2 linked regions of the Homo sapiens genome follow. The protein of the gene in region 2 purifies or fractionates together with the protein of the main gene of each other region. This does not show direct contact. Each region holds a gene or a part of one and is shown on either strand. Other genes may lie near its edges.

Region 1 (3,594 bases), on a different chromosome or scaffold from region 2:
AGCAGGTGCTCACGCCTCCTCCTCAGCAGAGCCCTACCATCCTCCTGCCATGCTCACCAGTCCCCATGCTGATAGCCATCACCAGTCCCCATGCTGATAGCCATCACCAGTCCCCATGCTGATAGCCACTTTCTGGATGCTCTAGGTCTGTCTGGATGACACAGTGACCACAGAGAAGGAGCTGGACACTGTGGAAGTGCTGAAAGCAATTCAGAAAGCCAAGGAGGTCAAGTCCAAACTGAGCAACCCAGAGAAGAAGGTGGGTTTGTGTGGCAGGTGGGAGGGCAGTGGTGCAGAGCCAGCCGGGATAGGAGCCAGTTTGGGGGGCTTGGGCCATGGGACTGCTCAGGGCTGCCGAGTCCCAGCTGCGCCCCTCCCTGGCTGCATGACCTCGGGCAAGTCGCGGCCTCTCTGTTCTCTGTGGGGTGGGGACAGTGGTAGTTCCTGCTCTAAGGATATGATGAGACCATCTTTACCACCCAGTTGGTGGGAACCGTTGCGCTCCCTCCTCACACCCCTGGCCTTGGGGAGCTCTGTGCTTCCTCTTCTCTCCCGGGCTGACTCAAGCACTCGTCCTCAGGGTGGTGAAGACTCCCGGCTCTCAGCTGCCCCCTGCATCAGACCCAGCAGCTCCCCTCCCACTGTGGCTCCCGCATCTGCCTCCCTGCCCCAGCCCATCCTCTCTAACCAAGGTAATCGTGTATGTATCTTGCTTCTAGTGGAGCCACACAGCCCTGCCTGGGCCCCCTGGCTGGGCTGGGGTTGGGGGAGAGGTGCCAGCACCTGCTTCCAACAGGGTCAGACACAGGGAGGGCAGTGCCTTCTGCAGGCTGGTCCTCGCGGGGGGACACATGGCAGGGGTGCCTGGCCTGATGCCAGCTGTTGCTTGCTTGGTGAGGACTCCCAATTGCTCTGATGCCCACATCCAGCTCCTCTAGGAGACCGCAGGGTGTCTGACAGGCCCTGAGGCTGCCCTCTGAACAGGCTCGGGGCTGTTGGCTCATGGGACCCATTCCCTCACCGGCAGCACAAGCAGGTTGGCTCCTGGTTACAGGAAGCCGGGCTTGTGACTTTACTGTCTGGAGCCCGAATCCCTGTGCAGGGAAAAGCTTGCTTTTATCACTGCCTCATCTCTGTGGGGTGACCCAGCCCCAGAACACCATGTTTGTGGGGCCAAGATGGGCCATCTCTGTCCCTGTGGACCCATGGAAGACCAGGCCCATTCGTCTGCCCACTATCTTAGCGTTTTCAAAGGGCTTTCACCTCTGAACCCAGGCATCCTCGGAGATGAGTGAGTGAAGCAGGTCTCATGAGCGTGTCTGCTGGCCCGGCCCCCACGGAAGAGGGGAGGGTGTGCCGTCCCGAGTGGAGCCGAGGCTCGGGACACGCAGGAAAGGACGCCGCCTGCCCGGGCTCCTGGAGACGCAGAACTTGGTGTGAGGTCTTGGGAAAACAGTTCAACCCGATGTTTTAAGAGCCAGAAAAACATTCCCACCCCTTGACCTGGTAACCCCACTGGTGGGGATTTTCTCTTAGAGGGATAAGATACCGGGAAGGGGAGGTGAAATGCTCACCACTGCCAAAACACGGGCTGCAACTGCAACATCGGAGGATGAGAGGGAGAGTCGGCTGTGGTGCAGAATGCTCAGCAGCCCTCCCAGCAGGGACAGGAAGACTGGGCAGGAAGAGGGGAGAAGCATTCAAGTTAAGGCAAAAGGCCCAACGCAGAGCAGCACACTGAGGTCACACCTGTGAGATGTGGAAGAGAATTCCTGAGCGTGGAGCGATGGGGTTAGGTGCCAGGATGATTGCCCATTTTGCTTCTGTCAGACTCTTGACTAAGGATTTCTGGTTGCATTTTATTACATAAAAGCCAGGGAGGTTATATCACGGTGAGAAAGCTTCCCTGACGCTGCCTCCTGTAGCGCAGCCAAGCGAGCCTGTGGAGGTACCATATGACTGTAGGCCTCTGGGGACAGGGAGCTGCATCTGCTTCTCAAGGCCAGGGACACAGCCATTTCTGCCAGCATCTGTTGATCAGTGAGTGAGTGAGTGGGCAGGTAGAGCAGGAGCCAGTGAAGAGCAGGCCCTGGATGGGTGGGGATGCACCATGTCCCCAGGCTGCAGCTGCAGGCAGCCCCCCACATTGTCGGAGAAGCCTCTGCACCAGCTCAGCCCCCTCCTCACTCCCCTTGTGCCCTGGGGACACTCTGCAGAGGGGCACTCTGCAGTCTGTCCCCGCCATCGCTGGACTTCTGGACATGGCCTCCAGATTTGCACCTCTTAAATAAAACTGCAGTGGATGTCTTTGTGTGCACCTCTCTTTCCTTTTGGTGAGAAACAGCAAAGATCGGACCCCTAAGGACTCTCCTGATGTCTCCGCTCTATCCGCTGAGTGCCCTTTCTGACCACTTGTTTGTACAGGCCACGGTCCAGGACGGGAGCAGATAGACTGTCCCTGTCCCTGTCCACATTTCCTTGGTCCAAACAGGGCTTGTGGGAGGTAGTGGCAAAAGGTGTTGGTCTTTTTCTCACTGATTTGGAGGCCTCCCCGTGTGTTTTTTCAGCCGCGTGTTCCTGGGTCTTGCCTGGATGGACAGGGTTTTTTAGCGCGTGGGAGCAGCTTTGCTGACCCATGCCTGTTGCTTCCAGCCTGATTCCCGAGAAGGGAGCCTGCTTGCGAAGGAACTGGCACTCGGGCCTGCCTGAAGGGGGCGCTGTCCAGACAACACCCAGCCTCCCGTCGTGGCAGGCGCTGTCGGAGCCATGGATGATTGTGACCAATAGGGGTGGTCGCCAGAGTTGATTGTCCAGCCAGGCCCAGGGGCTGAGAGGAGGCTGTGTGGAGAGGTGGTTAGGAGCCAGGGCTCGGTCAGCTGAGTTCGCATGCCAGCTTCCTAGCTGTGGGACCTCAAGCAACTTGTAGCCCCTCTGAAGCTGTTTTCTCAACTGTGAAGTGGACGCACCCTACTTCATTGATTCTAAGAGGCACGCATTTCCACCTTGTGACTTCTCTGAAACTGAGGTGCGTCTTTCAGTCAGTGGCGTCTCATAGTCGCTGTCAGCCAGCTGGTATTCGAGATGGAGTCGTGGAAAACCCGTGGACACCTTCCGCTAGGACCAAGATGGCGCCACCTGCCGCATCTTAGATTTGATGAAATGTGGTAAATAACGAGAGGCATGCATGAGCGAATGCTGGGGAGGCGCTTGGCACTACCCAGAGCTCCACAGAGGTGGTCGATGAGGGCTGCCCTTTCCCACATCCTTAGTAGGGGGTTCAAGATGACCCAGACTGTGCCCCTGGGGAGCTTGGAGCCATGCGGGAGGATGAGCCATGTGCTGGAGGAGAACAGGGTAGGATGGTGTGGGGCTTTTGTAGACTGTCTAGAGCAGAGAAGGTCTGCAGTGGAGGTGGTGTCTGAGGTGAATCTCGAAGGTGAATAGGAGTTGAACGTTAGCAGGCAGAGGGTGGATTGCAGGAGAGCAGCGGCCTGGGCAGGTGCCCAGCGTGGCCCATCAGGGTGCTTCATGCATGGCTGTGTGCTTGCCATCCTTCCTGCCTGCCTACCCCCTGCTGCTTCGCTTCGTGGGGGC
Region 2 (3,594 bases):
ATAATAATTTTAACTCTGATGCCTCATAAGGAAAGTATTAAAAGCCTTCTAATTTATTTCTGTAGTATTACCATTTTCTAAGTGTAATAATGAAAGACGAAGACACCATAGCTGACCAAGAAGATTAATTACTGTGAAATAATAAATACTCAAGACTAAACTGTTTTTAATTAACAGGTATTTCAGCAAAAAGTAAATAATCTGAAAGACTAATAGTATCAATAGAGGTAGTACAACCACTAGGAAAAAAAGTTCAACCTTTTGTTTCTATTGATATGTTCTCCATATTTAGATCCTCAAAACTGCAGATATATACAGTCATTCATGACACTATGTAAATAGCAGATAACAGGAAAAACAATTCAATACTTAACCAAGTTCACTGGAGCACAAAGTAATCGCCACTCAAGAATGCTGACACAAAAACTGAAGGACCTCTCAAGTTCCAATAGCACGCAGATAAGCTGAGCCCCTATGCAGTTACTCATCTGAACAGAAGTGGAAGATTAACCTACCCTCACTCATTTCACACACTAACCTGACAAGGCAGCAGGCAGTCTCTTCGGAGCTTGTTCATCATTCAGTCTGTTCCAGAAGTAACCGATTCCGTTAGGATCTGTGCCTTCAGGTTACCACTGTTTCACTACAGCCCTGTATCACTTCACCCTTGTCCCACCTTATTCTTTCAGGCATTATAAAATTCTTGTTTTCTAAATAAAGTTCTAAACCTTACTCACCTGCAGTTCACTGCACTGGGTATCACCCAAATAGCCCATCAGAGCTCTTTATAATTTCTGAAAGACAAAGAAGAAAGTTTTTTTAATACATAGTAGAAAACACCATTCACCAAGATATCAGTTCCAAAGCATTTGTATCCAATATTCCCAGCATATGGTCTTTTGGTCCACACTAGTTCAATAAAATGTAGCATGACCAGCACTAGACCAAGAGTCTTGAGATAAGCCTCCAAAGATTAAAAACAAGCTTGGTTTAATGTTGCTACTACTGAGCTGTGTGACCTTGAGCAACTCATTTAATTTCTTCAGGCCTATATTTCCTTATCTGGAAAATAAGTCACTTAGACTAGCTAGAGAAAGAAGAGCACAGGCTTTCCAGGAAGAACACCAGCTCCACTACTTTACTGGTCTCGTGACGTTACATTAGTTGAGTCACACTTAAGCCTGAATTTCTTCCTTTGTAAAATGGAAATAACTATCTCGTGAGTTGCTATGAGAATTAAAGGAGATGATGAGTTATAAAAAGCCTATAGTAAATATACTGTGCAGCTTATCCTAAAATTCAACAGATGGTAATTCATTACTACCATTAACCCCCACCAGCCCTAACATTACATGAATTCAATTCATGCATATTTCTTTTAAAAGATCAACAAATCAAAACTTTACCAACCTGACTAAAGAACTAACTGTTTTCATGTTTCACAATTCAAATTACAGTTATCTTAAGCTGATGGTAGTTTATCATTATTACTTATCACAGAAAATAAGAACAGAATAGTCCCTGCACAACATCCAAACTCTGGTTCAATGACCATGCCTTTTCTGACTTCTCACTCTACTTCCACACTGCCAGAATATCTCAGGAATAGAGAGGTCTTCCAAAAGCTAAATGACACCCAGCTGTTTGCCAGATTCAGCTCAAGGGAGCAGGACTAGAGACAGAAGAAGAACAGAGGCTTTTCTTTTTTTTAACCTTTTTTACTTTACATAAGTACTGCTCAAATTTGTTTACCATAAGCATACAGGAGTTTTGCATAAAAGTAAATAATTTTTTAAAACTGTATTAGTTAAACACGTTGCCTACTGACAGGAAGCTCGCATTATAGGACATTTTCATCACAACAAAGATAATTTCTGCAGAAGGAAGCAAAAAGGCAAATTCAGATGTGACAAGAACACCTAAAATATAGCACAGAAATGACAAAAATCACAAACATTCACACTTCAGAATAGTTCAGTCAACAAAGATGCCATGCATTCTTTGAAGAACCTGACGATGAATCAAGTTCTTTTTTGTTCAAAGACAAGATATATGTATACACTCTGCTTTACCAAACAACTTCCTGCTCTTACTTGGAGAAACTGACCCAGTACAATTCACAAAAGTAAACAAGTTGGTATGACTGTTGGTATTAGTTGAAAAACTTTCCATTTCTTTTGAATAATTAAAAGTTGACCAAAATAGTTATTACATGTATATATAAATAAAATTCTTCCTGTTACATCTACAGTGGTCTTTTAAAAAGAGGAATATTCACTTCTAACAGATTCAAGATTACTGAAAACTATTATCCCAGCCACCCTCAAAGCAATAAACCATCATGTTATATGCTGCTTCTAGCCAATGCTACAGAAGTAACCCTGACTGCACTCATCAACTGAAATGAATGGTAAGATAGTATGGCATACTCTCCACTTGTATCACTTTTCTTCTAGAAAACATTTCAAAACATTACTTAGAAATCCAATTACATCTGCATGTATATTCACCTAAGTTTATGAAAATTAAACCTAAAAATTTGCTTATAATTTTTTAAGTAGTTCCTCCCCATCTCTTGGATAACTGTTGTTGATACACCTGGCCCGAAATCTTCTATACATTTGAAACAACAGGCAAAGGTCCTTATTTCTTGTATGGGGCCTGTATTTGGATCTTAGGGTCTCTGACAGACAATTATAGACTAATCTACATTCAATATTAATGCCAAGCCTACTGCTTAAATAGAGAACACATGCATCTGTAAGATCTGGGCTACTTACTTGTAGGTCCCTCTGCACTATTCTTAGCCTTTCATGAATATGCTGTAGATTTTTTAATTACACGAGGCCCTTTGCAAGTAAAAATGACTTTTCCTGTTGTTTTGGCATCACTCCTCTTCCAGTGAAAACTGGACAGTCTATAAATATATACCAACTTTAAGACAATGCATTTTAATATCTATGGCATTAGAAAATAAAACTTCTTGTTAACAAATGCAATAATCAAGTTTACCAGCTAATAGAAAGGTACTTACTCCCAAAAACTACAGCCTTACCTAAAAATAGTGTCCTAGCTTCCCAGCCAAAAGGACAGACTAAAAAAGCTCTGTCTTTATTCAGCTCAGAGACACAGACTTCTACCTCACCACAACCTTCAATACTATGGCATTTCCCATTTTAGAATACTTTGTGTAACAAGTTGTTCAGTGGCCAACCACTAACTTCGCTTTGAAATGAATACTAACACTTCACAGAGTCTACATGTGTGAGAACTGTGGAAAATGTCTTGACACAATTCAGGTCAAACAACACTAGCCACACAAGATTACCTACTTCTAAGTATTCCATTTTAGACTACAAACAAACATCTCCACAGTCAAAAAGCAGACCACTGGCTCCTTTCCACAAAATTATCTGTAGGCTTCAAGAAAAAAGATAAGGCCAGGCATGGTGGCTCACGCTTGTAATCCCAGCACTTTGGGAGGCCAAGGCGGGCAGATCACCTGAGGTCAGGAGCTCGAGACCAGCCTGACCAACATGGTGAAACCCTCTCTCTACTAAAAATACAAAATTAGCCGGGTGTGGTGGCGTAAGC

Evidence for each region. The genes of interacting proteins can lie anywhere in the genome.
Region 1: the proteins of HELZ (region 2) and NISCH purify together in Homo sapiens (affinity purification with mass spectrometry, with the first as the bait; one large-scale study listed by BioGRID). This does not show direct contact.

The regions. Positions count from the first base shown.
Region 1 is NC_000003.12:52,479,604-52,483,197, forward strand, and holds part of NISCH (nischarin), read left to right. Parts: intron 1-145; coding exon 146-259; intron 260-580; coding exon 581-692; coding exon of another isoform or gene 693-916; exon of another isoform or gene 917-1,275; coding exon of another isoform or gene 1,276-1,295; exon of another isoform or gene 1,296-3,154; coding exon of another isoform or gene 3,155-3,164; intron 3,165-3,594. UniProt on the Homo sapiens protein: Acts either as the functional imidazoline-1 receptor (I1R) candidate or as a membrane-associated mediator of the I1R signaling.
Region 2 is NC_000017.11:67,238,696-67,242,289, forward strand, and holds part of HELZ (probable helicase with zinc finger domain), read right to left. Parts: intron 795-3,594; 5' UTR 738-794; intron 1-737. UniProt on the Homo sapiens protein: May act as a helicase that plays a role in RNA metabolism in multiple tissues and organs within the developing embryo.